Regions from separate parts of the Homo sapiens genome. Here regions 1, 2 and 3 are each linked to region 4. Evidence: fine-mapped expression QTL. A gene starts in region 4. Each other region holds a variant in brackets. All regions are shown on one strand. Distances are from middle to middle.

Region 1 (7,588 bases), 25 kb after region 4:
ACTTCCCAGAGTTCCCAGGAACCCAGTCAAAGGAAGGCTGGCCCTCCGGGTGAACAGCCATCATCCTGCAGACTCCTACTATGTGGCAGGCATGTGCTGAGCCCTTCATGGGCTGGTGTCATTTGAGCCTCACACAGAGGCCAGGAGAGGAGGATCAGCACCTCAGCTCTGCAGATGCAGGGGCCGAGAGAGAAGAGACACAGGAACCACTGGCAGCACAGTAGGGTGAGGAAGGCAGAGCCGCTGCCGTGCTAGTCTGGCAGACAATCGTGGCCCTGGAATGCCAGGGTCCAGTGAGAGCTGCATGATGGATGCATGAATGTGGAGACCACATTGTAGTCCGACCCTGCTCTGTCCGGGTCCCGCAGCCTGTGCCCCAGGTCTGCCCTGCCCTGCCCCAGGTTCTCAAATCCCACCTTGGCTCCTTCCTCTGTCACACACTGCCACCACTGTGTCACCTTGAGTTCTTGGGGACTCTGAGCCTCTAGGCAGGCAGCTAGGCTCTGGCAGGGAGCCAGGAACCTGCCCTGGTGTGTGTGGGGGGGTCTCAGGCCAGATGTCCGTCCCCTACTCTCCCAACCAGGGGATCTGCAGCTCAGAGAGACGTCCCAGCCCACCTGCTGTGGTGGGCAGGCATGGGAAGATGCAGCAGCTTCCATGGGAAAGTCGGGCACCCAGGGTGGGGAGGACAAAGGCTGGCGAGTCCTGCTGTGGGACCTCCATGGAGGCAGCGCTGCCACTGCTGCGGCTCTGGGATGCCCACCTCCTCGCTGGGCTGTGGCAGGACCCCTTGCTGCCCCACCAGGCAGGGACCAGCCCTCCTGTTAGGTTCAGATGCTCACTTCTGTCCCCATCCCCCATCCTTCCCCATCCCCCCTTTCCTTCCACTAAACGTGCACTTTAGGGTGGGGGAGGGACATGCCATTCCAGGAGCTGGACCAGCATTTTCTATACATCCTCACAGGAAGCCACGGGGCAGGTGCTCTTCTGCCCATTTCAAAGATGAAGTATCTGAGACTCAGAGAGGTACAGCAAACTGTCAAAAGTTGCACAGCTGGATAGTGGTGGAGCTGGGACTTGAACCCTGGACCCTGTGACCCTAAAGGGCCACATCAGTATCTGTGCCCTACGGCCCCGAGCACCCTCCATTCTGAGAAACGTTTGTTGAGTGAATAAAGTAGAAAGCCCCAAATCACAGCAGCTCCCAGGAGGGACTGACATCACTGCTCACCCCACCAAACACACTCACTCAGGCTGAGGTCCAGCCCTCATTCCCCGTGGGTCTCTCGCCGTCCTACTCACCTTTCCCTAAGCCTCCAGCCACACTGCACTCACCCTCACCCATACACCTGCCTCCCTCGTAGCCACCCTTCGGCACAGTGGCACCTGTACAAGCCCTCAGGCTGCGCCGGCATCTTTTCCGGGCTTCCCGAGCCCCAGGCTTCCCTCTGTGAAAGTTCCAAACACACCATGGCTCTATGTCTTCTGACCAGCCTGCCCCATCAGACTGAGTGTCCCAGAGCGGGGAGGCTGAGTCTTACTATTATTGTTATTATTATTATTTTGAGATGGAGTTTCGCTCTTGTTGCCCAGGCTGGAGTGCAATGGGGCGATCTCGGCTCACTGCAACCGCGCCTCCTGGGTTCAAGTGCTTCTCCTCCCTCAGCCTCCCGAGTAGCCGGGATTACAGGCATGCGCCACAATGCCTAGCTAATTTTTTTGTATTTTTAGTAGAGATGGGGTTTCTCCATGTTGGTCCGGCTGGTCTCAAACTCCTGACCTCAGGTGATCCACAAGCCTTGGCCTCCCAAGGTGCTGGGATTACAGGCATGAGTCACTGCGCCTGGCTGAGGCTGTGTCTTTGTGGCAGTTGCCCCCCAGTGTTACTGGGCTCTCAATGCACGCTCGAAGTCACTGAAGGGACTCTAAAAATTTGAAAAATACAAAAAGGATGGAAGAAGAAACAAACCACCAAAGAAATTACTGCTCCCCATCTCGGTACATTTCATTTAGGTCTTTTTTCTGTCTGTGTGTTTGTGGGACACCACTGTGAGCATCCTAAGAACACAAGCCTGCTCCTGCCTGCCTCCCTCGCATGAATAAATGCTGCGTTTGCAGAATGGACCTGGGGTGGCCGCACGTATCTCCTGAGGCCTAGGAGAGTGGGGAGTCACTCAGGGTCACTCAGCTACAAGGGGAGAGGCTCAGACCTGGAGGCCAGTGCTCCTGACCCCCCAAGGCACTGACTCCCATGGCAGTCTCTTTCAAGGCCCCAGAAATCTTAATTTTCCACTGTCCAGCTGACCATCCATCATCCCAGGCTTCCTCCTGTCCCCTAACGCAGGTGCCCTGATGTCTGTCGCTCACTCGTGCTCTCAATTCATCGAATGCTGCTGGGGTCCCACTCTGTGCCAGCCCCCAGCTGAGCCCTGGGACCCAGAGATGAATCACACAGAGCAGCCCCAGGCTGTCGGGGAGACCTGGGAACAGGGCAGAGAAGCTCTGTATGACAAGCGCTGGCCCAAAGGCATGAGCAGAGCCCAGGGTGAGATGGCACTGAGGGGGCCGTGGGTCCGCCTGGCCTGCGGTGAACAGGAGGCAGCCAGGAAGACTTTCTAGAGAAGGATGCCTTCCAGCAGCGGCTTAAAGAACTAGCAGGCAGGGCGCGGTGGCTCACACCTGTGATCCCAGCACTTTGGGGGGCAGAGGCGGGTGGATCACCTGAGGTCGGGAGTTCGAGACCAGCCTGGCCAACATGGTGAAACTCCATCTCCACTAAAAATACAAAAGTAAGCCAGGTGTGGTGGCGGGCGCCTGTAATCCCAGCTACTTGGGAGGCTGAGGCAGAAGAATTGCTGGAGGCAGAGGCTGCAGTGAGCCGAGATTGCGCCATCGCACTCCAGCCTGAACAAGAGTGAAACTCCATCTCAAAAAAAAAAAAAAAAAAGAGCCAGCAGAAGCCCAGCAGGTGAAGGACGACAAAAAAAAATCAGACTAGGCATAGGAACAGCAGGAGGAAGGCCCAGAGGAGAGAAGGCTGAGAGTGAGCAGGAACAGACTGCATGTCCGGGCAGGTGGTGAGCGGGTGCAACAAGGGCCCAGCCAGGACTGGGCATTGGAGATGACCCGACCATCCACAGGGTTCCCATCAAGAGCCCGCATGCAGCCCGCTCCCTCTCACAGCTGCTGCACGCGTGACTCTGGGTACCAGCACTTCCCTTCAGAACTCTAAGCACCTTAGGCAAAACTTCCACCTTAAAACCAGCTGGTCCTTGAGGCCCCCAGCACCAGCTCCCGGTTATTTCCTGGATGAGCCAATGCAAAGCCTGCCAGGGCCTCTCTGGAAACTGGAGCCGGTGCAAAGGATGATCCGTGCCCACAAGCTTTGGTGGATGTGAGGCCGTGAGAAAGAATAAGGACACAGGTGTGATCCTTGCTTGCTCAGAGAAAAAGCCAAGTTTATCCTGAATTCACAAATTAGAGACCGAGGCTCAGAGAGGTGAAGCAACCTGTCCAAGGTCACACAGCATGTGAGCAGGCCCAGGCACTGAGCCCACCCCTCTGACTCCCCTCACCGTGGCATAAGCTCCCCTAGGGAAGGTCCATCTGACATGTCCCCCGCTGGTCCCTGGAGCCTTGAGCGCTGGCCCGTGGCCAGGGCACCCAGAATGTTTTTTATGAATGAGTGAACAAAAGAATCTGAACCCCCTGCCCTTCGTCCCACCCCATGCAGCAGTAGGAAGAAGCCATCTGCTACTGTTTTTTGTTATTGCTGCTACTCTAAAAATCGAAAGCACAAACCCAAAGTCACAGCACTGTGTCACATCAGGGCGGACAGACACCCTAGTCCTGATTCAGGGCTGAAACGGAGTGGGGCTCCTCCGGGGCAGGGGCACACAGCAGGGTCTTGGACTCAGACAGACCAGGGCCAAACCTCTGCTCGGCCGCTAAGCTATGAGACCCGACACGCCGCACCCCCTCTCCACGCCCAGGCGTCCCCACCGCTAAAACCAGACGCAAAGAGTGCCTACCTTGCTGGGTGCCGAGAGGACTCAGGAGGTGGGATGCTGCCAGGGTGGGCACAGGTGGAATCCCAGCCCACGGGTCTCCTCTGCTCTGCGACCTTGGCTGAGGTCTGCACCCTCCTGGGGGTGAGCTCTGAAACCCTGCTCAGCACTAAGCACACTGGATGCCTGGCCTTGGGGGCAGCCGAATGGCTTACACATTAGGAGGCGTTCACA[T/C]GGCCAAAGGGCAGAGGGGGCCCAGGAGCTTGAGGGCAGGCGGCTCACTGGGCTCCCCCATGACTCAGCAGAACTCAGGCTGCAGGCTCGGGTGGGAGCTGCCCCCGACTGCACCCTATGCAGGGAAGCCCAGCTGCTGGCTGATAAATATTTTATCACTGCTCACAGAGCAGTCCCCAGGAAGGCGCCTGCATCCTCCAAGCCCACAGAGCACCCCTTCCTGCCCGGACAGAAGGAACTGGCCAGGTCCAAGGTACAGGGTGGGGTCAGGAGCCCAGACAGCTCATTCCTGCCCTGCCGACTTCAGGTAAGCTCAGCACACGCCCCTGAGCCCCACCCACACTCCACTCTGCCCTATGTTGGGTGCTGGGCTCCGACTGCTATGCCCCTTGGACAGCCCCCCTCCTCCTCTTCACCCCGCCTAGAACACCAACCCTCTGCCTGTTGGCCCAGTCGAACCCCCCATCCTGCTGGCCCAGGGCCATTGCCGCCTCCTTTAGGAAGCATTCCTGGATCCTCCATTTCTGCTGTGTGACTGTGGGGAGGGCCATCACACTCTCTGAGCCAGTTTTTTCTTTTTTCTTTTCTTTTCTTCTCTTCTCTTTTCTTTCTTTCTTTTTTTTTTTTTTTTTTTTTTTTTGAGACAGGGTCTCACTGTGTTGCCCAGGCTGAAAAGCAGTGGCGCAATCACAGCTCACTGCAGCCTTGACCTCCCGGGCTCAGGTGATCCTCCCACCTCAGCCTCCCGAGTAGCTAAGACCACAAGTGCATGCCACCATGCCCGGCTGACTCATTTTTTTTGTACTTTTAATAGAGACTGGGTCTTGCTATGTTGCCCAGGTTTGGCTTAAACTCCTGGGCCCAAGTGATCTGCCCGCCTTGACCTCCTAAAGTGCTGGGGTTACTGACATGAGCCACTGCGCCCAGCCTTCTTTTTTGTTTTTGATTTTTCTTTTTCTTTTCACTTTCCCAGGTTCAGTAACTTGCCCATCTGAGCCAGTTTCTACAATGGAGCTAAGGATCCCCGCTCATGGGGGACAAAATGAGATTGTGCCAATCAAGTTCTCCCAGCACCTCGCCCACACAGAGACTCATTCTATTTGGGGGAAACCGAACATCAGGAATCAAATCATAAACATGACTGATCGTGGCTAGGAGTGGGGCACAGGACTGCAGAGAATCTGGCTCCTGTCTGCAAGGATCCACAATTTAATTAGGATATGTGACCTAAGTAATAATAATAATAATAATAATAATAATAATAATAACAACAGCAACAGTAACAACAGCCACCGAGTTTTAAGCCCCACCACATGCCAGACACTTCACATCCCATCTCCTCGTTTACTCCTCCCAGAACCCCTAGGATGTGGGTTGCTTCTTGCTCCCATTTGACAGCAGAGCAGGAAACTGAGATGCAGGGAGGGTGAGAGCCCTGCCTGGGGTCACACAGCTTTCCACGTCATTGTGCATGTGGAGGCCCCACTGAAAGGCGGGCTCCAAGACAAATGACAGAACAGCCATGGGACAGATACTGTGCAGCTGCTGAAAACTCAGCATGACTGCTCACGAGCTCCTGGGCTGCTTAGGGACAGGGAAGATGCTCACGATATTACACCGAGTGAAAAAAGCAGAACAGGCCAGACGTGGTGGCTCATGCCTGTAATCCCAGCACTTTGGGAGGCCAAGGCAGGAGGACAGTTTGAGCCTAGGAGTTCAAAACCAGCCTGGGCAACGTGGCAAAACCCCATTTCTTTCTTTCTTTTTTTTCTTTTTTTTTTGAGACAGCGTCTTGCTCTGTCACCTGGGCTGGAGTGCAGTGACGAGATCTCGGCTCACGGCAACCTCTGCCTCCCGGGTTCACGCCATTCTCCTGCCTCAGCCTCCTGAGTAGCTGGGACTACAGGCGACTGCCACCACGCCCGGCTAATTTTTTTTGTATTTTTAGTAGAGAAGGGGTTTCACCGTGTTAGCCAGGATGGTCTCCATCTCCTGATCTCGTGATCCACCCGCCTCGGCCTCCCAAAGTGCTGGGATTACAGGCGTGAGCCACCGCGCCCAGCCTCTTTCTTTCTTTTTTTTTTTGAGACAGCGTCTTGCTCTGTCACCTGGGCTGGAGTGCAGTGGCGAGATCTCGGCTCACTGCAACCTCTGCCTCCCAGGTTCAAGCAATTCTCCTGCCTCACCCTCCTGAGTAGCTGGGATTACAGGTGTATGCCACCATGCCCGGCTAATTTTTGTATTTTCTAGTAGAGACTAGGTTTCACCATGTTGGCCAGGCTGGTCTTGAACTATTTTTTTTTCTTTTTTTTTAGACGGAGTCTCTCTCTGTCGCCCAGGCTGGAGTGCAGTGGCGGTCTTGGCTCACTGCAACCTCCGCCTCCCGGGTTCACGCCATTCTCCTGCCTCAGCCTCCCTAGTAGCTGGGACTACAGGCGCCTGCCACCACGCCCGGCTAATTTTTGTATTTTTAGTGGAGACGGGGTTTCACCGTGTTAGCCAGGATGGTCTCGATCTCCTGACCTCGTGATCCGCCCGCCTCAGCCTCCCAAAGTGCTGGGATTACAGGCGTGAGCCACCGTACCCGGCCTGGTCTTGAACTCTTGACCTCAGGCGATCCACCCATCTCGGCCTCCCAAAGTGCTGGGGTTACAGGCATGAGCCACCGTGCCTGGCTGCAAAACCTCATTTCCACACACAAAAAATAAAAAATAAAAATAAACCCAAAAAACCAAAAACAAAAAACAAACGAAAACACTGGCAGGGTGTGGTGGTGCGTGCCTGTGGTCCCAGCTACCCGGAATGTGGTGATTGTGCCACTGCACTCCAGCCTGGGCAAAAGAGCAAGGCACTGTCTAAAAAAAAAAAAAGAAAAGAAAACAAGAAAAAAGCAGGATACAGAACCGTAGAGCTGTAGGTGTAGTGCTGCAATGACACTGTGCAACAGGACTTCTACCTCAGAACAAATTGACTGGAAATGAATATGTTTAGGGAGAAAGGCTGCAGGCAGAATCAGAGCCCGTTCTCCAGACTCTGTCCAATATGGCGATGTTGGTTTTATATTTAAAATTTCCCTTAGAAAGAGGATTTGTCCACCCCAAGGCTTTATGAGCAGCTACTGTCTGTCCTCTTTGTTGAGCATTTTACTCCTCTCTCAGCCTCAGGTTTGGCCTGTGGAAGGCATGAAGCAGAACGTGGGCCCACCCTCTCCCAGCCATAGGTAGATCTCCTGGCCCCTCCATCACAGCAAAGCCAAAGCCACGCTCAGGATCTTCTCCCTGTCTTCCCTTTCCACAGGGGGTCTATTTACCAAGGACCATCACCGCCACCTACCCAAGCCCTAGACT
Region 2 (7,588 bases), 41 kb before region 4:
TAGCATGCTAATGAATTATAATTGGCATATAATGAGCAGTAAGGATGACCAGAGGTCACTTTCATCGCCATCTTGGTTTTGGTGGGATTTGGCCAGCTTCTTTACCACATGCTATTTTTTTTTTTTGAGATAGAGTCTCACTCTGTCACCCAGGCTGGAGTGCAGTGTCGCCATCTTGGCTCCCTGCCACCGCCGCCTCACGGGTTCAAGCGATTCTCCTGCCTCGGCCTCCCAAGTAGCTGGGATTACAGGCGCGCTGCCACCACACCCAGCTAATTTTTGTATTTTTAGTAGAGACGGGGTTTCACCATGTTGGCCAGGCTGCTCTCGAACTCCTGACTTCAGGTGATCCACCCGTGTCGGCTTGTTAAAGTGCTGGGATTACAGCTGTGAGCCACCATGCCCGGCCCTGCATGCTATCTTATCAGCAAGGTCTTTGTGATCTGTAGCTTGTGCTGACCTCCTATCTCATCCTGTGACTAAGAATGCCTAACCTCCTGGGAATGCAGCCCAGTAGGTCCCAGCCTGATTCTACCCAGCCCCTATTCAAGATGGAGTCGTTTTGGTTCAAACATCTCTGACAACATGAACGGACAACCTCCATTTCATTCTCTCAACACTCAAGCAGCTGCCTTATTCCTGAGCAAAGAATTCGTAGCCATCCTAGCCTGTGGCCTGTTCAACTAACACAACACAATTTGTGTGTTATTATTTTATACTTTCCCGGCTCTCGAAGGACTTGAAGTGGTAACACTTCATTGCTCTCAAAACATGACAAGGAAGTCACAATGTCTTATTCCAGCAACGTACACACACTGGATCGTTTTCATCTGGCGCTGGGTGCAGGGTTCTCTTTTCCTTTTGTGGAATGTAAACATCTTTTATATTACCAATGTAAGATCCGGCCCTCATGAAAGAAGGGCAATTTGCAGGGTTTCTGTTTTAAAAAGCGACTTTGGACGGGAGTAAGGGAAACTCCCCCCGCAGTCGGCCTACGGCTGGCAGAATAATTTCACAGTATTAAGAGATGTCAGGGGAAATACCACCCTCCTTGCATTTGTGTTTTGTGAAAATCTCATACAAATTTCACCCCATAGCTTAGCGATATTAACATACATACAATAAAGCAACAATACCGAATGATTGTGTGGCAAAGAATGCAGGTGTGTTCTGCCATTCATAATCAAAGGAAAAAGAAATATAAAAGAACTGTACAACCCAGGCTGGTTCCCCTTTCAAGTTCTTTCTTCTGTTTTTTCCCAAGCACTGTTTAATCAGTAATCAACCAGTTAGCCATTTCCTTTTGTTGCTATCTCAATAACTCCTTGCATTTCAAATGCCTTGCGATAGAAAAGAAGGAATAATCATGCAAAATAAAGGAATTACATCTGAATGGTATTATTCTTAGCTTTATTAAATTTGCTCTTACAAATGTTTCTGAAGTCGGAGAGTTGGTTCTCCCCCAAGCAGCAAATTCCACATTAATAAGCGCTTGGGGATGGAGAATTTCAAGGAGGAGGGAATAAAAGATCTATGTCCAAGGTCTTGGGCTTCCCGTTTGTTTTCTCCGGAATTAACTCAGCCTGCCAGCTTCTTGAGCTAAGACTTGGCCTGCTTTTAACCTTATTAAAACCACAAAGCCAACACTACCCCCCAGTTTGGGTGTATGACTGCCAGGTTAGGGCAAAAGGGATGTGGAAGATCTTCTTCCAACCCTCTCCCTTTATGGGCCAGGATCCTGGGATCCAGTCGGTTAAGGGGCTTGCTTTATCCCTATGTAGCCTGGCCCAGAACCCCAGGCAGGTTCCCTGACCCCTGCCCGTCTACTACGTGCCCTGGTCCTGTGTCAGAGCAAATGCATTGTGTGGTTAGTACCGCCTGCAAACTGCCTCCACTGGGTTTTCTGCGATCTTTGGGTCCAATAATGGAAACCCTCCTGATTTGCAGCTGAGGTGGCCATGCTCCTGCTGCCCTGGTTGACAGCAGGGTGGACGCTGATCTTGTGCACCGACCTGCCCACCCCTCAAATGCCTTTACCATACTGGCACTACCGACCTTACAGACATCTCACAGCCCCAAGGTGGCCTGACAACGGGTTTACCCGGTCCCTTTGCCACCAGGGACCAGACAGTGACAGACTGCACCATTGTGATGTCCACCCTGAGAGAGGAGGCTGCCCTAGAATTCATCACCCAGCGATGCCCAGCTTGGGTGGTGAGGGAGGACACAGTGGCTACAAAGTGAAGTGCCTGGAACACAATGGGTATTGGCGCTGGTGGCAGTTGGGTTTGGTCCAGCGTAACTGGGGCATCTCTGTGTGTGGGGAGCATCTGTGCAGCAAGAGTATCCCCACATGATGGGTGCCTCTCTGTGCAGTGGTAGCATCTGTGCAATGGGATCATCTGTGCCGTGGGATCATCCCCATATGATGGGCGCCTCTCTGTGTGGTGGGAGTATCTGTGCAGTGGGAACATTTGTGCAGTGGGAGCATCCCCATATCATGGGAGCCTCTCTGCATGGTGGGAGTATCTGTGCAGTGGGATCATCCCCATATGATGGGCGCCTCTCTGTGCGGTGGGAGCATCTGTGCAACGGGAGTATCTGTGCAGTGGGAGCATCCCCATATGATGGGCGCCTCTCTGTGCCGTGGGAGCATCTGTGCAGTGGGAGCATCCCCATATGATGGGTGCCTCTCTGTCAGTGGGAGCATCTGTGCAATGAGATCATCTGTGCAGTGGGAGCATCTGTGCAGTGGGATCATCCCCATATGAAGGGCGCCTCTCTGTGTGGTGGGAGCATCTGTGCAGTGGGAGCATCCCCATATCATGGGTGCCTCTCTGTGCGGTGGGAGCATCTGTGCAATGGGAGTATCTGTGCAGTGGGAGCATCCCCATATGATGGGCGCCTCTCTGTGTGGTGGGAGCATCTGTGCAATGGGAGTATCTGTGCAGTGGGATCATCCCCATATGATGGGTGCCTCTCTGTGCCGTGGGAGCATCTGTGCAGTGGGAGCATCCCCATATGATGGGTGCCTCTCTGTGCGGTGGGAGTATCTGTGCAATGGGAGTATCTGTGCAGTGGGAGCATCCCCATATGATGGGTGCCTCTCTGTGCCGTGGGAGCATCTGTGCAGTGGGAGCATCCCCATATGATGGGTGCCTCTCTGTGCGGTGGGAGTATCTGTGCAATGGGAGTATCTGTGCAGTGGGAGCATCCCCATATGATGGGTGCCTTTCTGTGCCGTGGGAGCATCTGTGCAGTGGGAGCATCCCCATATCATGGGTGCCTCTCTGTGCGGTGGGAGTATCTGTGCAATGGGAGTATCTGTGCAGTGGGAGCATCCCCATATGATGGGCACCTCTCTGTGCTGTGGGAGTATCTGTGCAATGGGAGTATCTGTGCAGTGGGAGCATCTCCATATGATGGGCACCTCTCTGTGCTGTGGGAGCATCCCCATATGATGGGTGCCTTCCCCGTTCGGTGGCTGCAATGCTGCCGGTTTCCCATCAGGCCCACTGTCCTGTGGGGTGATTTGGGACACCGTTCCTGGAAGTGGGCTTGGCTCACCCACCTCATCACAGCTGTAGGAGCTCGCAACATTCTTCAATAAACTCCTTCTCTGCATGATCATTGGCATCTGCCTCGGCTGCTTGCAAATCAGAGCCCGCCTGATCCTGCATCCTCATATTTTACACTCCCCTGGCCTCTTCCCCTACCAA[G/A]CACAGGCTGACATGAATCCCCATCGTGAGAAGAGGAATGTCAGTATGAGAAATTCCTCTTGCAGATGATGTCAATGATAGTTTACATTTTTATAGCTTTTTACAGCCTGTGAGAGCAGTTCTGAGCTCTCTGCAAACACATCAGTCAATGAGAAGAAGGGTTCTTGGGGGTAAAACCATCCGTTTATTATTAAGCCATTATCACCTTCAGGTCAAAAACCATTAAGTACGCGTCTGCCCGATGCTTGTCATCTGCACAGAGCTCCTTTGTCAGAGATGTCTGGTGTCTGGAGTTTACAATCTAACAGCCCTGCTCTGCATGTGAGTCCACGGTGCACAGACAGGCAAAGAAACAGTGCTGGTCACTGATTTCATAGCTGGGGAGATCCTGGCTATAGATCGGGAAACTGAGGACAGGGCGACCTGCCCAATATCACACAGTGCCCAATTTACGATCAGATCCTGGAGGTCCTGGCTCTGCCCATGAGGGGTGTATGACATACATAAATATATACAATGAAATATCCCATGCTGGCCTTCTCCCCACTCAAGGACTACGTGATTCTAGGGTACTGGGAAGAAGGAGTGTAGCGTCAAGTCAAACCTGGTTGTGCCGAGCGACAAGCATCTCCCAATCACAGGGGCCTCCACCACCGTAGCCGGCCTTCTTATCCAGGCCACACGTCTACCTGCTGGAGCAGGCTTGCCTGGGACACTGCCAACCACCGTGGCAGAGGGAAGGACAGTCCTGGAGGGGCCTGTGTCTGGCAATGAAATCCTCCAGATCTAGAGCACCCCGCATCACTTCCACTTAGAACTCACTGGCCAGGGCTGGTCATATCGCCACCCCCAGCTACATGGGGACCGGAAAGAGCATCATAATTCTTAGGTGCTCATCTCCAGTCTGTGTCAGTTGCATCCCTGGCAGAGGCTCCTGTGCCTTGGCATCCTCCCTACTCCTCCCAGCGTTTCTGAGGCTACTGCCTGCTTTACTGCTGGACAGTCCTGGAGTTGGGGACCACGGTCCCCCGATGGAGTGCTGTGTCCCTCCACTCCAGTCTCAGTAGAGGGGCCAAGACGATCAGTTCACGCTCCCTGAGGAAAGCAGCTACAGGGACTGCAAGGAAGGAAGGAGTCCTTTCCTCTCTCCTTTCCTTCCTTCTCTATCTTTCCTTTCTTTCCTTTCTTTCTCCTTCCTCCCTTCGTCCCTCCCTTCCTTCCTTTCCTTCCTTCCTCCCTCCCTCCCTTCCTTATTAAAAAAAAATTAGCCAGGTGTGGTGGCATGTGTCTGTAGTCCCAACTACTCTGGAGGCTGAGGTGGGAGGATCACTTGAGTCGGGAGGTTGAGGCTGCAGTGAGACATGATTGTGATTATGCCACTGCATTGTAGCCTGGGCAACAGAGGGAGACCCTGTCCCCACTGCAAAAACAAAAAACAAAAAACAAAGTTGGCCTATAATTAAGACTTCTGGGTTGGCTGGGCATGGTGGCTCACGCCTGTGAAACCAGCACTTTGGGAGGCCCAGGCAGGTGGATCATGAGGTCAAGAGATTGAGACCATCCTGGCCAACATGGTGAAACCCTGTCTCTACTAAAAATACAAAAATTAGCTGGGTGTAGTGGTGCACGCCTGTAATCCCAGCTACCTGGGAGGCTGAGGCAGGAGAATTATTTGAAACCGGGAGGTGGAAGCTGCAGTGAGCCGAGATTGTGAGACTGCACTCCAGCAGCCTGGGCGACAGAGTGAGACTCCGTCTCAAAAAAAAAAAAAAAAAAAAAAAAAAAAAAAAAAAAAAAGGCTTCTGGGTCTATACCTAAAAGAATTGGAAGCAGGATCTCAAAGACATATTTGTACACCCGTGTTCATAGCAACATTCTTCACAACAGCCAAAAGGTGGAAGCTTCCTTCCCTCCCTTCCCTCTCTCCTTGGCTCCCCTCCCCTCCCCTCCTCTCCCCTTCCTTGTGTGTTTACTGTGGTAAAATACACACCATAAAGTGGGCAGTTGAGTAGTGTTAAGTCACATTCATGTCGCTGAGCAGCCGATCTCCAGAACTCTATTTATCTTGCAAAACTAAACTCGAATCCCATCGATGACTCCTTAAACCCCCTCCCGCAGGGTCTGGCGACCACCACTCTACTTTCTGTCCCCGTGGATTTGCCTATTCTGAACATCTCGGAATGGAATCATCCAGTATGTGGTGTTTCCTGGCTGGCTTCTTTCACCTCACATCAGGTTTTTTTTTTTTTTTTTTTTTTCTGAGACGGAGTCTCGCTCTGTCACCCAGGCTGGAGTGCAGTGGCACGATCTCTGCTCACTGCAAGCTCCGCCTCCCGGGTTCACGCCATTCTCCTGCCTCAGCCTCCCGAGTAGCTGGGACTACAGGTGCCCGCCACCACGCCCAGCTAATTTTTTGTATTTTTAGTAGAGACGGGGTTTCACCGTGTTAGCCAGGATGGTCTCGATCTGCTGACCTCGTGATCTGCCCGCCTCTGCCTCCCAAAGTGCTGGGATTACAGGCATGAACCACTGCGCCCGGCCTCACATCAGGTTTTTAAGTCTTATTCATGTTGTAGCATGTATCAGGACTTCATTATTATTATCATTTGGACTTCATTCTTTTCCGAGGCTGAAGAATATTCCCTTGTATGGATGACTACGTTGCATATCCATTCAGCTAACGATGGGCACTTTGTTGTTTCTACCTTTTGGCGGTTGTGAAGCATGCTGCTATGAACATGGGTGTGCAAATATCTCTTTGAGATCCTGCTTCCAATTCTTTTGGGTATAGACCCAGAAGTCTCAATTATAGGCCAACTTTTTTTTTTGTGGCAGGGACAGGGTCTCACTCGGTTGGCCAGGCTGCAGTGCAGTGGCGTGATCACGACTCACTGCAGCCTCAACCTCCCAGACTCAAGTGATCCTCCCACATCGGCCTCCAGAGTATTGGGACTACAGGCACGTGCCACCACACTTGGCTAATTTTTAAAATATTTTTTATAGAGACAGAGTTTCACCCTGTTGTCCAGGCTGGTTTCCAACTCCTGAGCTCAAGCAATCCACCCACCTTGCCCTCTCAAAGTGCTAGGTCCACAGGTGTGAGCCACCGTGCCTGGCTGTAAGCTATTACTTTCATGGTCAGATGGAAAATGACAAATGGGCCCACGCTTATTGTGGGCACCCCTTTGGCCTACACGCTTCCCAGTCCCTCTCTCTTCTTCTGGAGTCTTCCCTTCTCTGGGAGGGCCTTCGGCTGCAGGCATCTCCACCTTGGGACTCCTCCTCTTCCTCTTCCCAGGGCCAGCACATCCAGAGAGCATGTTTGCCCCCTACCTCGTGATTCCTGGGCCACAGCCCACCCAGCAGCACTTTCCTGAAACGGAGCTATTCCTTCTGGAGATGAATATCACGGGGTCCAAAGTGGGTGCTTGAGAGGGCACGCGGGGTGGGCATCAGCACTCCAATGGACCCGCCTCTGAGACCTCCTACCAGGGCTTAGCTGCTGTGTGGTGTATACTTGCACACACACACACACACACACACACACACACCCACCCATCCACTCTCGCGCGCGCGCACACACACACCCCCAAACACTTGTGCGTGCGTGCAGACACACACACCTACCCACTTACACACACACACACACACACACACACGGACGCCCAAACAAATCTGAGCTCTCAGCAGGGGTGCAGTCAGGGTCACTGGGAAGCCTATCGTAACCCACCCTGGGTTTTCCTAAGTGCCACCTCCACCCCAGACGCTGTCACAGTGCAGGTGAGGCTCACATGTCCCGGCAGGCCCACGGACCCCAAGGCGGGGCTGAAATGCAGATTTAGGGTCAGCAGATGGGGCCAGGGCCTGAG
Region 3 (7,588 bases), 36 kb after region 4:
ACATTCACACAGCATCAGTAGCCTGTCTGTTTCTGCCTGGGTTTTTCTATCTTGAGGGGCCCTCCTTGCCATCTGTGGGGCCTGGGGAAGGTCTTCATGAATGAGTAAATGAATGAATGAATGAATGACTCCCCTCCTCTATGGGAGTCTCACGAGAGCTCTGTTCTTCTCACACATGTCCCAGAAGACGGTTTTGTTCACATCCACAAATGTCCACAACTTGCGGCACCCAGAGAGGGGCTGGTGTTCCTCTTTCCTTCTCGTCACCCACCCCTCCTGGTGTCTGCGCCCCTGACTTACTGGGCGTGAGCAGGAAAGCTGGCACCACACCACGCTGCCCGCCTCTGCCAGGCAGTTCTGTGTTACCGTCCCCAGGCCTTTTAAGCCATCCCTTAGAAACAAAAAACCCATTAGCTCACAAATGTTTCTGCACAGGCTGCTTTCCCTGCCGGTGAGGAATTAAGTCCATGCAAGTATCCCCATCGCCACCCAGTTAAAACAGCCAAGACACAGAAGTGCCAGCCCTTCTCACGGCCGATCCACCCACACCATGGTGTGCTTGCGACGTGGGGTACCACACTTCTTTGGACCTCCCTGACTGCCCCTGTGGGTGGATGAGTGGGGGTAATATGATGATCGCCAGTTTTCAGGTGAGTAACCCAAGGACCAGAGAAGCAAAGTGACTTGTCCAGGGCCACACAGCCAGCCAGTGCTGGAGCTGGGATCCTGACTCAGGCCTGCCGGACTTCACAGCAATCCCCGCCCCACGATTTAAACAAAGGGCTCAGAATCCCAGACTGTTTGGCAGGAAAGGTCCCTGGGGAGGCCATAACCTCCTCTGACTGCTGGGGGACTTGGGCTCCAAGAGGGGAGCGGCTTGCCCAGGGACACAGCAAAGTTGTAGACGCCAGGATGGGCCCTTCTTGGTCCTCTTCGCTGTCCGCCAGCCGGAGGAAGGTAGATGACTTTGTCCCCCTCATCCGATGTTAACACCAAGCGGTGCTCACACCTGAATGTGCATTAGAATGACGATGGGGGACTTACAAAATGCAGATTCCTGGTGCCCCCTTACCAGCTCAGGACAGGGACCAGGAATTGACATTTTATCAAGCACTGTCATCAAGGAGGATGATCTGGGGGTCCAGGACCTCACTTGGAGAGCCCCAGCTTACCCCCAGGATTCTGGAGGCTGCGCCGAGTGCAGAAGGCCGGAGGGGCCACAGGGAGGCGCCCTCCCGCCTCCAGATCCAGTCCAGGGAATGGGACTCACCACTCTCCCACCAAGAGCATCACTCATCACCTTGCAGCTAGGCCACCCCACACGGTCCTCATGGCCTCTGTCCACAGATGTCACTCCCACCCATGCCACTGGTAGGGAAGTGGAGGCCGCTTGGAGGAAGTGACCCAGTCGCTGGGACCACATCTTGTGACCTTTGGACATGGGACCCTCCCCCAGCCTTCTACCTTGGCTCTGGTGGAAAAAATCTTAGAAAGCGTCAGGCTCTGCTTATGGGAACAGGGTCTAGAAATCCATCTGATTAGGTCAGAGGCGCAGACCCGTGGCCAGGCAGACCTGCCCAGTATCCCCACCTGCCAAGGGATGGTGAGGGTGTCTCCCCAGGTTCTGACCTTACAGACCACTAAGCGCTCCAGCCCTGGAGTCTCTGTCCCGGGGTCTGCCTGCTGCCTCCACCTGCCCCCACCCACTCTGCAGGGCCAGCTACCAGCCAGGAAGTGGCTGGAGGCCCAGGCCAGAGGCCAGAGCGGTGGGGGCCACAGGCTGAGCCAGGACAGGGCTCAGAAAGGAAGGGTCCCCCATCCTCGACCATCTTTGTTTGCCCTATTAGGGGGAGCAATGGCGAGGGAGGGGAGAGCTGCCATGGGGAGAGAGCGGTGTCGGGGAAGGAGATGGGGACACGGGGCGGCTGGACGGAGACCCACCCACAGAGACGCGGACAAACTCAGAGATAGAGGGAAGGGGGCGGGGCGGGGGGCGAGCGAGAGAGGCTGGGAGAGAACGAGCTCGGGAGGTCCCGGGAGGCTGGGGTGGGAGAGGCTGGACCTTCACCCAAGGGGGCCGCCCCTGCCCCGCAGATTCCGTCCGACCCCTACCCCACCCTAGGGCCCCGCAGTCGGCGTCGCGCGCGCGCGCACCTACGCGCGCACACACACGCGCGCGCCGCTCCGCCGGCACCGCCCCGGGGCCCCCCCTTCCGCAGGGTCGCGCGTGCCGCCCCCCAACCCCAGCCACCCGGTCCCCTCTCCGGCCGGGCCTCCGGACCCGTAGCCGCCGCTCACCTCGGTCCCCGCGCCGCCGCCGCCGCTGCCACCGCGCAGAGCCAGAGCCGGAGCCGGAGCCGGAGCCCGGGGCCGGGGGAGGGGGCCGCGGAGGCCCCGCCCCGCCCCGCTCCGCCGCGTCCCGCCCCTCGGGCCCGCGCGGGGGCGCCCGCAGCCGCCGCAGCCCCCAGGGACTCGGGGCGCTGCAGGGGAGACTCGCCTAAGTGCGGCAAGCGGGTCCGCGGGCACGCCCACCCGGGTCCGCCGGAGCTGGGGGGCTGGCGCTTGGGCCCCCTCCCGGCCTCCGCCCCTGAGCACTGCGCAGGCTGTGGGCGGCGCCCGCCGGGGCAGGGGGCGTCCCGGGTCACCCGGCGGCCCGGATCGGCCCGTGACGCCCTCACCCCACCCCTCGGCGGGCCGCAAACGTCCAGAGAGCGCCCCCTCCCCAAGCCCCGACCTGAGCGGGGCGCTAGAAGCCGGGAGGACAAATCAGACGGTCAGACTCAGTCCCTGTCCCGGGGATCGGGGTCCAGCCGCGGGCGGAGCGGGGAGGGAGGGGAAGACGAATGGGCCTGGCACCAAAAACAGCCCAGGGCTGTGGTTCTCAAAGTGTGGCCTCCGTTAGTGCAGAGTCCCTGGCCCCACCCCGGACCTACAGAAGCAAAACTCGGGGTTGGGCCCCCTATTTTAACAAGCCTTCTGGGTGGTTCCAGAGTTCAGTAAAGTTTGAGAAGAACTGCCCTGGTGGAAACATCCAGCACCCCACATCCTGCACCCCACAACCCACATCCCACACCCCAGTGTCTCGAAAAGGGCTTCTTTTCACTCTTCACTTAAACAGCCTCACCCTGTTTAAGTACCTCTCCGTTGGTACGTGGCTGTGGTGGGGGCAGTGGGCGGGGAGCAGTGGTGTCTGTCCCAGGAATCCCCGAAAGGATTGACAGTCAGTGCCTGGTAGAAGCCGCAAGTCCTGTACCAGAGGCCAGGCTGTGGGCATTCGGGCGGTGATGGTTATGGTTATTGTGTTTTGGTGTAGTGATTGTTTTAATGTTTTAGAATGCAATTGTGCAAATATTTGTGTCCATATTCAGTTGTAAAGCTTTTTTTTTCCCCTTCCATCATTGTGCTTGTTTGACGCTAAGCCACTCATCCCCCAGAAACAGTGTTGACATGAGGCAGATCAGATGGCCGGCCTTCCTGGTGACCAGATT[T/C]CAGGACAGCAAGCATCCCGGCCAGACCCCAGGTACTCTAATGGGGTCCATAGGGCCCTGGGAGTGAGCAGCTCTGCCTGAACTGCAGGATGGGGCATCCTAGAGGGAGGAGAGGGCATCTGGACAGAGGGGCCTAAAGTGTCTGGGTGGCATCTAGACTGGGCAGACAGTGCCTGGATCGAGTACTGGGGTGGGGCTGGAAACGGCCCAAGAGGTGCCAGAAGGAGGTGGAGCTGTTCTGAGCCCCGTGCTGCCAAGAGGGATGTCCTGGCCTTGGAGGGACCTTTGAGGTCATCTAATCCAGCCTCTTGGTGTGTGACCACTAGGACCTCCCCCACTTCTAATTAAACTTTCCTTCTTTCTTTCTTTTTTTTTTTTCTTGAGACCGAGTCTCGCTCTGTTACCCAGGCTGGAGTGCAGTGGTGCCATCTTGGCTCATTGCAACCTCTGCCTCCTGATTTCGAGTGGTTCTCCTGCTTCAGCCTCCTGAGTAGCTGGGGCTACAGGTGCCTGCCACCATGCCCGACTAATTTTTGTATTTTTAGTAGAGACAGGGTTTCACTATGTTGGCCAGGCTGGTCTCAAACTCCTGACCTCAGGTGATCCACCCGCCTGGGCCTCCCAAAATCCTGGGATTACAGGTGTGAGGCAGCACGCCCAGCCTAAACTTTCTTATTTTGAGATAATTGTAGATTCACATGCAGCTATAAGAAACAGTAGAGATGTCTTGGACCCAGTTTTCTCCACTGGTAAAATCTTGCAAAATTATACTACAATATCACAACCAGGATATTGACATAGATGCCATCAAGGTACAGAACATTCCATCAGCAAAGGACCCCCCCGTGGACTTTTTATGTGCTTATCTCCCTCCCTCCTCCCTCCTGGCAAGCACTTATCTGTTCTCCATTTCTGTAATTTTATCATTTCAAGCATGTTATATAAATGCAGTCATACAGTATGTTACCTTTTGAGATTGCTTTTTTCACTCAGCATAAATCCCTGAAGATTCTTCCAGGTTGCTTTGTGTTTCAGTAGTTTGTTCCTTGCTATTGTGGAGTGGTCAGCATTCCATGGAATGGGTGCATCATAATTTGTTTAGCCATTCACTTGTCGAAGACTATCTGGGTTGATTGCCAGTTTGGGGCTATTACCAATAAAGCTGCTATAAACATTTGTGTACAGGTTTTTGTGTGAACATAAGTTTTCATTTGTCTGGGAAGAGTGCCCAGGAGTGTAATTGCTGGGTCGTATGGGAGTTGCATGTTTAGATTTTTAAGAAACTGCCAAAATGTTTTCCAGAGTGTACCACTTTGCCTTCCCAGCAGCAAAGCTTGAGTGATCCAGTTTCTCTGCATCCCTACCAGCATTTCGTCTTGTCCCTGTGTTTTATTTTTGCCATGCTGATAGGTGTGTAGTGAGATCTCATGGTTTTAATTTGCCTTCCTCTAACGACTATTGATGTTAAAGATTCAAAACGATCTTGAGAGCTTATTTACCATCTGTAAATCCTATGAGTGGTAGGTGTGTTCATGTCTTTTGCCTATTTTCTAATTGGATTTTTTTTTTAAAAAATGTTCATTAAATTTCTTTCTCTCTCTCTCTCTCTCTCTCTCTCTCTCTCTCTCCCTCTCTCTCTTTTTTTTTTTTTTTTTGATGGAGTTTCACTCTTGTTGCCCAACCTGGAGTGCAGTGGCACAATCTTGGCTCACTGCAACCTCTGCCTCCTGGGTTCAAGCGATTCTCCTGCCTCAGCCTCCCGAGCAGCTGGGATTACAGGCGCGCGCCACCACATCTGGCTAATTTTTTGTATTTTTAGTGGAGACAGGGTTTCACTATGTTAGCTAGGCTGGTCTTGAACTCCTGACCTCAGGTGATCCTCCCACCTCGGCCTCCCAAAATGTTGGGATTGCAGGCGTGAGCCACGGCGCCCGGCTGGTTATTTCTTTATGGTGTAGTTTATTCAGAAATTCATGAATTCCCTGAGAGAGAGGAGAGTTGTCTCTTTTCTTCCCCAAAGTATCTCTGGGTGTTTGGAAACAGTCTTTGGCACGTATTAGAAGGTGGCTAATAGGTATTTGTTGAAAGAATCAGTGAGTAAATGAATACATGACCCCATGGTGCGTGGTTCTGGCCACGTCATTTGTGGCGCCCCCTGCTCCCCAGATCCATTCACTGCCTACTTTGTGCTCCCTGAGGCTGACCTGGGTGGACGGCATCCCCCACCTGGTTACATTTGACCCATGGAGGCAGTTGCTGGAGATCAGCCGGAGAGAATGAGGCATTTCTCCTCTTGCCCTCTGCTGACCCTTGCAGTCCCTGCGGGTTGCATGCTGACCACAGCTCTTTCCCGGATGCTCTGCCAGGCTTTAGCTCCACTGGCTTCCGGGGGAAGCACCATTTCCTTCCCTCCCTTCTGCAGCCCCAGGGCTGGTAGCAGCTTCCCTCTTTTGCTGGCCTCTGGCTCTCCCTAACCTGCCCACGCCTCTGTGAACATGAACCACCTGGTCAGCTCTGCCTTCTGCTGGGACCCTGACTGTAACAGATAGATATCATTATTATTATTATTATTATTATTATTATTATTATTGAGATGGAGTCTCGCTCTGTCACCAGGCTGGAGTGCAATAGCGTGATCTCGGCTCACTGCAACGACTGCCTCCTGAGTTCAAGGGGTTCTCCTGCCTCAGCCTCCCGAGTAGCTGGGACTACAGGTGTGCACCACCACGCCCAACTAATTTTTGTATTTTTAGTAGAGACGGGTTTTACCATGTTGGCCAGGATGGTCTTGATCTGTTGAACTCGTGATCCGCCCGCCTCAGCCTCCCAAAGTGCTGGGATTACAGATGTGAGCCACCGTGCCCAGCCAACAGATAGATATTATTGTTGCCACTCTACAGAATTGGAAACTGAGGCTCAGAGAGGTTATACATCATGCCCAGGACCACACAGCAAGTCCTGACAGAGCCAGGGTTGAGCCCAGGCTCCCTGGCTTGGAGCCCATGCTGCTGGCTTTCAGAGGGTTTTGAGCTCTTCTCCTCTGAGGGGCCCAGGACTGGGGTCAACATGAAGGTGCCTCAGGTGACCCAGAAGGCAGCTGAGACCTGGACCCCCTCAAAGGCACGCGGGTGCCTGTCATAGCTCTGGCAGTGACCACGAGCCCATTGGCCTCTTCCTCCCTGTGAGAGCTGAGCATGTCTCTGGGGCCTGGCAGGAAACCCAGCCTGTGTGTGTTTCTGCTGCTCAGTCACGTGAGACTGTGGGAAGCTGCTGGGAGGCTCAAGTGAGGCCCCTGCCCCAGCCACAGTGGCGGCCTGACCTCACATTTCCTTCGCTTCTTCTCTGAGTGAGCAGATGTGGCCAGCACCCACCACGTGCCAGGACCGTCCTGACACCCTGAGGGCGAGGGGGGCACCGTGGCAATGTATCGGAGGGAGAGGGCACAGGCTCTGCAGCTTGAATACTAAGGCTGAGTCCCTTCTTGAGGGACCCCAGGCTCCTTGCTCCTGCAATGGGGACCATTGCACTTGCTAATTTCACATGTTTATCCTTTCATTTATTTGCCTATCCATTGGTGGATGGAGCCGTTAAAACATAGTTAATGAGCCTTTGTTTATAGCCTGCAGCTAAGAAAAGAGCTCTGTGAATCTAAAGCCCTGTATGAAATGTAGTTCTCTGATGGGGGCGTCTGGGTACCTCCCACCACTGCCCCTGTGTAGCCTAGGCCAAGAGGGCCTTTGGTGCCATTGAAGGACTGAGTGAAAACCTGACTTGTCTGAGGGCTCTGTGCACTGGGGGGCACCCCTGGACCCTACCCTGTCCCCTGTCACCATAGTCAGGGAGACAGGCCCGACAGTGCACAGTGACTAACCCAGGGCCACACCATGTGTTAGGCAGAATAATGGCCCTCTCCTCAAAGAATTCCATGTCCTGATCCCTGTAGCCTGTGAATTTGTGGCCTCACGCACTCCTTATGGCGAGAGGAACTTTGCAGATGTGAATCAGGGTCTTGAGATAGGGAGAAGGTGCTGCATTCTCCCAGGGGGCCTGACATCATCACAAGGGTCCTTATAAGAGGTGGGCAGGAGGGTCAGAGTGAG
Region 4 (7,588 bases):
TACAAAAAAAAAAATTAGCCGGTGTGATGGCACACACCTGTAGCTACTTGGGAGACTGAGGTGGGAGGATCGCTGGAGCCTGGGAAGTCAAGGCTGCCTGAGCCATGATTGTGCCACTGTACTCCAGCCCGGGTGACAGAGCAAGACCCTCTCTCAAAAGAGAAAAACCAAACATTTCCTGCACACCTACAGAATCAACATCCATGGAGGAAAGAATGGAAGGCAGACCCCAGCGAAATGCTCAGCACTCCAGGGCCCCTGGTTTGCTTTCCTCCCAGCACTAAGCCCACCTGCATTTACTTACCTCCTTGTTTATTTACCAATGCCTCCCTCTGGGAACTCTAAGCTCCAGGAGGCTGTTCTCTGCTGAATCTATGCCCTGAGCAGCCCAGTGCTGGCACAGTCAATGAATGAATGAATAAACGAATGAATGAATGAATCAATCAATCAATCAATGACTCAGTTCTCATGACAGAGCAAGCCTTACACTTGATGGAAATAGGGTCTTTGCAGCGGTATTTAATTAAGGACCTGGAGATGATCCTTAACTAAGGATGGGCCCTAAATCCAATAACTAGTGTTTTTACAAGAGAAAGGGGAGGGAGCCTGGTGTGGTGGCTCATGCCTGTAATCCCAGCACTTCCGGAGGCTGAGGCAGGCGGATCACCAGAGGTCAGGAGTTTGAGAGTAGCCTGGCCAACACGGTGAAACCCTGTCTCTACTAAAAATACAAAAATTAGCTGGGCATGGTGGCATGGTAGTGGGCGCCTACAATCCCAGCTACTTGGGAGGCTGAAGCAGGAGAATTGCTTGAACCTGTGGGGGCGGAGAATGCAATGAGCTGAGATTGCACCACTGCACTCCAGCCTGGGTGACAGAGTGAGACTCCACCTCAAAAACAAAAACAAAAATTAGCTGGGCATGGTGGTGCACGCCTGTAATCCCAGCTATTAGGGAGGCTGCGACAGGAGAATCACTTGAACCCGGGAGGTGGAGGTTGCAGTGAGCTGAGATTGCACCAGTGCACTCCAGCCTGGGTGACAGAGCAAGATTCCGTCTCAAAAGAAAACAAAAAAGAGGCTGGGCACGGTGGCTCACACCTGTAATCCCAGCACTTTGGGAGGCCGAGGTGGGCAGATCACCTGAGGTCAGGAGTTAGAGACTAGCCTGACCAACATGGCAAAACCCCGTCTCTACTAAAAGTACAAAAAATTAGCCGGGCGTGGTGGTGGGCGCCTGTAATCCCAGCTACTCCAGAGGCTGAGGAAGGAGAATTGCTTGAACCCAGGAGGCAGAAGCTGCAGTGAGCTGAGATCACACCATTGCACTCCAGCCTGGACAAGAGTGAAACTCCGTCTCAAGAAAGGAAAAAAAATAGAGAGAGAGAAAGGAGAGGGAGATTTGGACGTGGAAATGAAAGCCATGGGGAGGTACATATTGGAGTGATGCAGCCACAAGCCAAAGAGCCACCAGAAGCTTCAAGAAGCTCCTCCCCTAGAGCCTCTGGTGGGAGCGACACCTGGACTTCAAGCTTCTGGCTCCAGAACTGTGAGGGAACAAATTTCTGCTGTTTTAGGCCACCGAGTTTGTGGTCTTTGTTACAGCAGCTCTGGGAAGCTAATACAGTCACACAGATAAAAGGGGGTGTGTCTTGGACTCATAATGAGGAGTACACGGCCAGGCCCTGCAGAATGACACGCCTGTCCCCGACCCTGCACAGATCTGTTGTCCTAGGGGGCCCTGGCAGGGAGCACCGCTAGGAGCAGGAGCATGCAGACAGGGACCAGAAGGGGTGCCCTGCTCCCTGCAGTTTCCACTCAGGGACTTGGCTGGTGAAGCCAGTTTGCCTTCTCTTGGCTCCATCTCCCACATCTGCTGGGGAGGAGAGCTGGGGCGCAGGCTCTGCTGCATCCTGTGCAGGTGATGGATGAGCTGGGCATGTCTCCTGGGTGCTCTCTCTGCCCTTCTGCATCTCTCGGTGGGGGGTGCTGGTAATACCTCGCTGGGCTAGGAGAGTGGCAAAGTCAGTTAAGGGCAGTGAACGGGGCTGGCCTGGGGCCTGGCACATAAGAGGAGTGCAGGAAATGGCCGTGCCCCTGCTGCCTGGGGTGGTGGGAGCTGATGTAGGCCTAAGGGCTGGGAGACCTGGAGCCCTGCAGGTGCCGCGGGGAGGGGCTGGCATTTCTCTGCAATCTGCCAGGCTGCTGAGTGAAATCTGGTGGGGCGGGGGTTGCTCAGGCAGAGTCCCCCTGAGGCCTCCCTGAACTCTGAGAAGACACTTGAGACTCAGAGCCCACTCCAGGGTCACCCAAGGTTGGGTGAGGGCAGTGTCTAAGCCAGCAACCAGCCAGTGCCCCCACCTGTCTGGGGACCCGCAGCAGGACGCCCCACCTCGGGGGTGGGAGGGAGCTCACCAAGTGGCTGTCAGTGGGTGCTCAGGAACTGACTGATTCCTGTGGAGCCCTCCAAATGCCATCCCTACAGGGACACCCCGACACTGGTCCACTGCGTGAGTCTGGGGTTGAGCTGTGAGGTACAGAGGACTTACTATGTGCTAAGCACTGTGTTGAGGGCTTTATTTTGCATGTTCAAATTTCATCCCTACAACAGCCCCATGAGGTGGGCACTGTTATCTGCCCGTTTTATGGATAAGGAAATTGAGGACCTGACTTGCTCAAGACCACAGAGTAGGGAAGAGGCAGAGTTGGGATTTGAAATAAGTCTATTTAACTCTTTCCTCTAAATCACGGCAGAGATTCAAGGACAGAGAGATGGCTTTCATCTCAATACTGGAGGAGAACACTGCTCTTCTTTTTTTTTGAGATAGGGTCTTGCTCTGTCACCGAGGCTGGAGTGCAGTGGTGGCATCATGGCTCATGGCAGCCTCGACTTCCCTGGCTCAAGTAATCCTCCCATCTTGGCCTCCCAAAGTGCTAGGATTACAGGTGTGAGCCGCCGTGCCTGGTGGAGAACACAGCTCTTAAGACACTGTGCAGTCGTTGGGTCAGGGAGATTTCCCAACAGGAGTCCTTCCTTCACTGTTCCCACACCAGCCCTCCCCACAGGGAGGAATGCGAATACCCACTGACGGAGAGGGAAACGGAGGCAGGCATGTGACAGCCCTCTAGCAGTTTGCAACTCAGAGACAGAAGAGACCACGTTTGAAGAGGGTCTCGCTGGCAGCCCTGAGCCCACCATGACGCTCACAATGCATTCAATGAACTGAAAATAACGTGTGTCCAAGTGACAGCCGGGTTCCCGGTGGCCAAGACCACAGCCGGTGGAGCATCTGGCAAGATTTTACTGCCAGGTGTGGGCGCGAGAGGGGCAACGTCCACAGCCTCCCCCGAACAGTGTCCACAGCCTCCCCCGAACAGTGTCCACTGCCTCCCGCGAACAGCCTGCCTCACTTTCTCCTGCCTCTCATTTTCCTAGGGAGCAGAGACGCTGGGGAGTTCCACTAAATAAACCGTCTCTTTTCCAGATCCCGGACTTGCTCCTCAAACAAAGCTGGGAGAAGGGGCTTCCCAGGCCCCTGCTTGTCTGGGAATGACCCCTGGAGGAGAGTCCTCTAAAGAATGCCTCGCAGCTGCCGCACCCCCTGCTGACAGCTGGAGGACAGGGGGCCTCTCAAGGGAAAGCCGAAGGGAGCTTAAAGAGACACAGGAAGCCTGCGCGACCCACCCACTGAGCCCCGAGGCTCCCGTGCTCAGCCGCAAAATGGGAAAAATACTTCCTGCTCCGTTAGCCTCCCAGGTTGTCACGAGCACCGCAGTGGAGACGTGGAAAGACCCCGGGTAGGAGGCGGGCACGCGGCTTCCCGGCCCACCCCGCCGCCCACCCGCCGGGCGCTTCTGGGCCAGCCCCGGGCGCTGGCGGGCCTCGCTCCCTTCCCTGGGTTCTGGAACCACGCTGCACTGAACTTTCCTCCAGGCCCGCACCACTCCGGCGGGGCAAGTTCTTTGCAAACTGTGAAGCGCCGCGCCGCCTTCGGCAGCGTTCCTGGCTCGGGGCGGCCCCTAGCCCGCGGACGGCTCAGGGGTCCCCTCCCCCGGCTCCAGGGCCTCCGGGTGGCCGGGAGGGCGCGGCCTTACCTGTTCCAGGTGGCGTTGGCGCAGGCCCGGCGCTGCTGCGTGCCCCGCTCGTCCGCGGCGGCGGCCGGCTCTCTCTTGCCCAGGTCACTGAGGCTGGGCGAACTCATGAACTTCAACCTGCGGAGAGTCCTCATGGTGACCCGGGCCGCCTGCGCCGCGCCCACGCGCGCCCCACGCCGCGCCCTGCGCCACGCCGCACCAAGGGCCCCGGGCCGGCGATGCGCCCTCTACGCGGAAACTCCGGCGAGAGCAGGAAGCCGAGCGGTCCTGCGGGGTCCCGCCCCGGCCCCGCGCCTCCGTCTCGGGTCCCGCGCCGGCCGCCCCGCCGGGTTAATCATTGCACGGAGAGGCTCAGCGTGGAGCGCCAGGCGCGCGGCCAGCACAGACCCGGCGCAAACGGAGGCCGGGGGCGGACCCGGGGGCGGGCCCAGGGGCGGGTCTCGGCGCCCCGGGGGGCGGGGCGGGGAAGGGGGCGGGGGCATCGCGGGCGGGGCGGGGCCTCAGGCGAGGGGGCGTGTGCAAGAGGCGGAGCCGGCGTCTCCGCGGCCGCAGCTGCCACGACGCCTCGCTGGGTCTGCCCTCTGAGGACGTGCTCACCCTCCTCCCCTCTTCCGAGGGCCCCACGTGCCCACAGGAAACCAACACGCACAGGACGCAGGGCCCAAGCCCAAGCGCCCGCCCCCCGCCCAGCACTGCGGTCGCGCCCACACGATGTCCTTCGACCCCGGCCCCGGAGGTCTCCCTCCACAGCCCTCCTCGCAAAGGCTGTGCCACAGAGGTGCCTCCGTACCCCTCACCTGAACACAGGCTCCCCCACCCAGTTCTCATGAGGACTTTGGGTAGAGGCCTTCAGTCCCCTCCAGGCACCTTGGCCCAAGAACCCACTCCACCCGGGCTCAGCCTAGACCCCCTTGGACAGGGACTTCAGCATTGCCTGGCTGCCTGGAGGATTTGCTGGAGTGAGGGCTTGAAGAAGTAGAGGGTTTGCTCCTTATCTCCCACCCCCAGGTCTCTTGGATGGTAAAACCAAGCAGTTTCCCAAGTCCCTGTGGTGGGGGCAGAGTGATCCCAGTGAAGGCAGGGCACAGCCGGTGCTTCCTGCCTGCTTCGCAGAGCACTTTTAGATGTCTGATTTCACATGAACTAACATGAACTACTTCCGTGAGGTAGAGATTATTCTTCTCCCCATTTTCCAGTTGAGGACATTGAGGCTCACAGAGTGAAATAACTTGCCCAACATTGTGCCAACATTGTGCAATCAACAAATGGTAGAGTTGGGCTTCACCACAGGGAGCGTCCAGCCCCTTGAACAGGGCCCTTCCCAGTCCCCAGCTTCTGGGATTCCCACAAGGCTCACCTGACCCCTCCATCAGATGGGGGGTGACAGCCACAGCTCCAGGAGCTGGGAGGGCCCCATATAAAATGTAAGAGAGAGGTGATGGCTCATGCCTGTAATCCCAGCACTTTGGGAGGCCGAGGTGGGAGGATCACCTGAGGTCAGGAGTTCAAGACCAGCCCGGCCAACATGGAGAAACCCCATCTCTATTAAAAATACAAAATTAGCTGGGCGTGGTGGTGCATGCCCGTAATCCCAGCTACTCAGGAGGCTGAGACAGGAGAATCGCTTGAACCTGGGAGGCAGAGGTTGCAGAGAGCTGAGATCTCGCCACTGCACTCCAGCCTGGGCAACAACAGCAAAACTCCGTCTCAAAAATCATCATCATCATAATAAAATAAAATAAAAAGTAAGAGAGCCTCATGAAGAGTCTTTGTTTAGTGCAAATCAACCAGTGTCTCCTGAGTACCTCCTGTGTTCCAGACATAAATACCATCGTCTTTGGGAGACAGAGACATAAACAGACAAACTTGCTCATCAGTAAAGCGGGATGGAACGGTTCATCTCACAGGCAGCTTGGGGCCCACAGGCAGCAACAGGTGCTTTATAAACTAACTGTCAAGTGCTGTACACGTTTTCTTTTCTTTTTGAGACAGAGTCTCACTTTTTGGCCCAGGTTGAATGCAGTGGCACCACTGTGGTCACTGCAGCCTCTACCTCCTGGGTTCAAGCAACCCTCCCACGTTAGCCTCCTGAATAGCTGGGACTACAAGGCATGTGCCACCATGCCTGGCTGATTTTTTGCGTGTGTGATGGCGTTTCGCTCTTGTCGCCTGTGGAGTGCAATGGCGCAATCATGGCTCACTGCTAACCTCTGCCTCCCAGGTTCAAGTGATTCTCCTGCCTCAATCTAGTGAGTAGCTGAGATTATAGGCACCTACCACCACGCCTGGCTGATTTTTTTATTTATTAGTAGAGATGGGGTTTCACCATGTTGGCCAGGCTGGTCTTAAACTCCTGACCTCAGGTGATCCTCCCACCTCGGCCTCCTAAAGTGCTGGGATTACAAGAATGAACCACTGTGCCCGGCTCCCTGGCTAATTTTTAAAAAATTTTGTAATAGAGACAAGGTCTTGCTATGTTGCCCAGGCTGGTCTCAAACTTCTGGACTCAAGGAGTCCTCCCACTTTTGGCCACCCATAGTGTTAGGATTACAGGCATGAACTACTGTGCCTAGCCCACGCTCTCAAACTTACGGGAACACTGTATCTTTTAGATCCCAAACCAAATTTCATGGCCAGACAAGGATTTCCTACCTTACTGCTGTAAAAAAAAAAACAAAAACAACAACAAAAAACATATAAAAATACTAAAGCATGTACTGAATTGTCTCTGAAAAGAATGAAAACAGAGGATAAAGCCCAGATCCTTGACTCCTCGGAGGGGCCTTTGAGACCTGCTTGCCCTCCAGCTGCGGGTCCCTCCCCTGCCCTAGAACGTCTTTCAGAGAAGTTAGTTGCCCCTGTCTCTGACCGCCTTCACTCTCAATTAGGCTCAGGGGGCGTCCTGTTGTCACCCGATGACTTTTTTTCCATCCTATGCCATAAGCCAGGAGGGCAAGAACCGTAACAACTTGTTCACTGCTACAGTCCCCGTGCCTAGCACAGACTGGGTGCTTCATAGATATTTGGTTTAACGGATGGATGAACATTTATCTCATAAGAATAAAGGGATTACATTGGACCCCACTGGTGAAAATGCCTCATAAAAGTGCCCAGGCTGGACAGATGTGAGCGAGAATCTCCGTCATGGCCACTGGTGTAAACGCAGCAAAGCAGAACCGCCAGGGATCCGGATGGGATGAAATGGTTTCCCACGCCGGAGGCTGGCTCTCAGGAGAGGACTGGCTTTGTGGGCTCAGCACAGCCTGGTCCCAAGCTTGCTGACCACAGGCAGGGCCTGGCTGGCAGGAGGGGCCAGCTCCAGAGAGGGAGGGAGGCCTGACTGCTTGGGATAAGAAATCAGAGAGAAATGGGCAGCCCGAGGTGGGAGGCAGGAGGAGGGAAACAGGGGGCTGGGAATGCTGTAGGCATCTGGGAGAAGCGGCCAGCCAGAAATTCCGGAGGTGGGGATGGCTGAGGAATTTTAAAGAGATCTT

The links. PIP is the estimated chance that this variant, and not a neighbour inherited with it, causes the effect.
Region 1: its variant is the best candidate, but not a certain one, in a credible set for the expression of PRR5 in whole blood (TOPMed, PIP 0.62).
Region 2: its variant is the best candidate, but not a certain one, in a credible set for the expression of PRR5 in whole blood (TOPMed, PIP 0.70).
Region 3: its variant is the best candidate, but not a certain one, in a credible set for the expression of PRR5 in whole blood (INTERVAL, PIP 0.88).

What each region holds. Positions count from the first base shown.
Region 1 is chr22:44,673,684-44,681,271 of GRCh38, reverse strand. It overlaps a transcript of PRR5 not described here. Among named protein-coding and RNA genes, the nearest start is that of PRR5, 25 kb to the left of the region's middle. RefSeq lists an enhancer at 970-1,866. The variant T/C (reference allele first, on the strand shown) is at 4,242.
Region 2 is chr22:44,740,274-44,747,861 of GRCh38, reverse strand. The region is part of intron 4 of PRR5-ARHGAP8 (PRR5-ARHGAP8 readthrough); the gene reads right to left. Among named protein-coding and RNA genes, the nearest start is that of ARHGAP8, 8.5 kb to the left of the region's middle. The variant G/A (reference allele first, on the strand shown) is at 3,720.
Region 3 is chr22:44,663,516-44,671,103 of GRCh38, reverse strand. It overlaps LOC124905132 (a long non-coding RNA gene), which reads left to right and starts at 2,521. Exons shown (of 3, transcript XR_007068127.1): 1 at 2,521-2,773; 2 at 3,435-3,520; 3 at 6,105-7,588. It also overlaps a transcript of PRR5 not described here. The variant T/C (reference allele first, on the strand shown) is at 3,489.
Region 4 is chr22:44,699,115-44,706,702 of GRCh38, reverse strand. PRR5 (proline rich 5) reads right to left here and starts at 4,499. Exons shown (of 8, transcript NM_181333.4): 1 at 4,095-4,499. The coding sequence starts at 4,228. It overlaps PRR5-ARHGAP8 (PRR5-ARHGAP8 readthrough), which reads right to left and starts at 4,499. Exons shown (of 15, transcript NM_181334.6): 1 at 4,095-4,499. The coding sequence starts at 4,228. RefSeq lists a silencer at 4,216-4,625 and an enhancer at 6,874-7,414.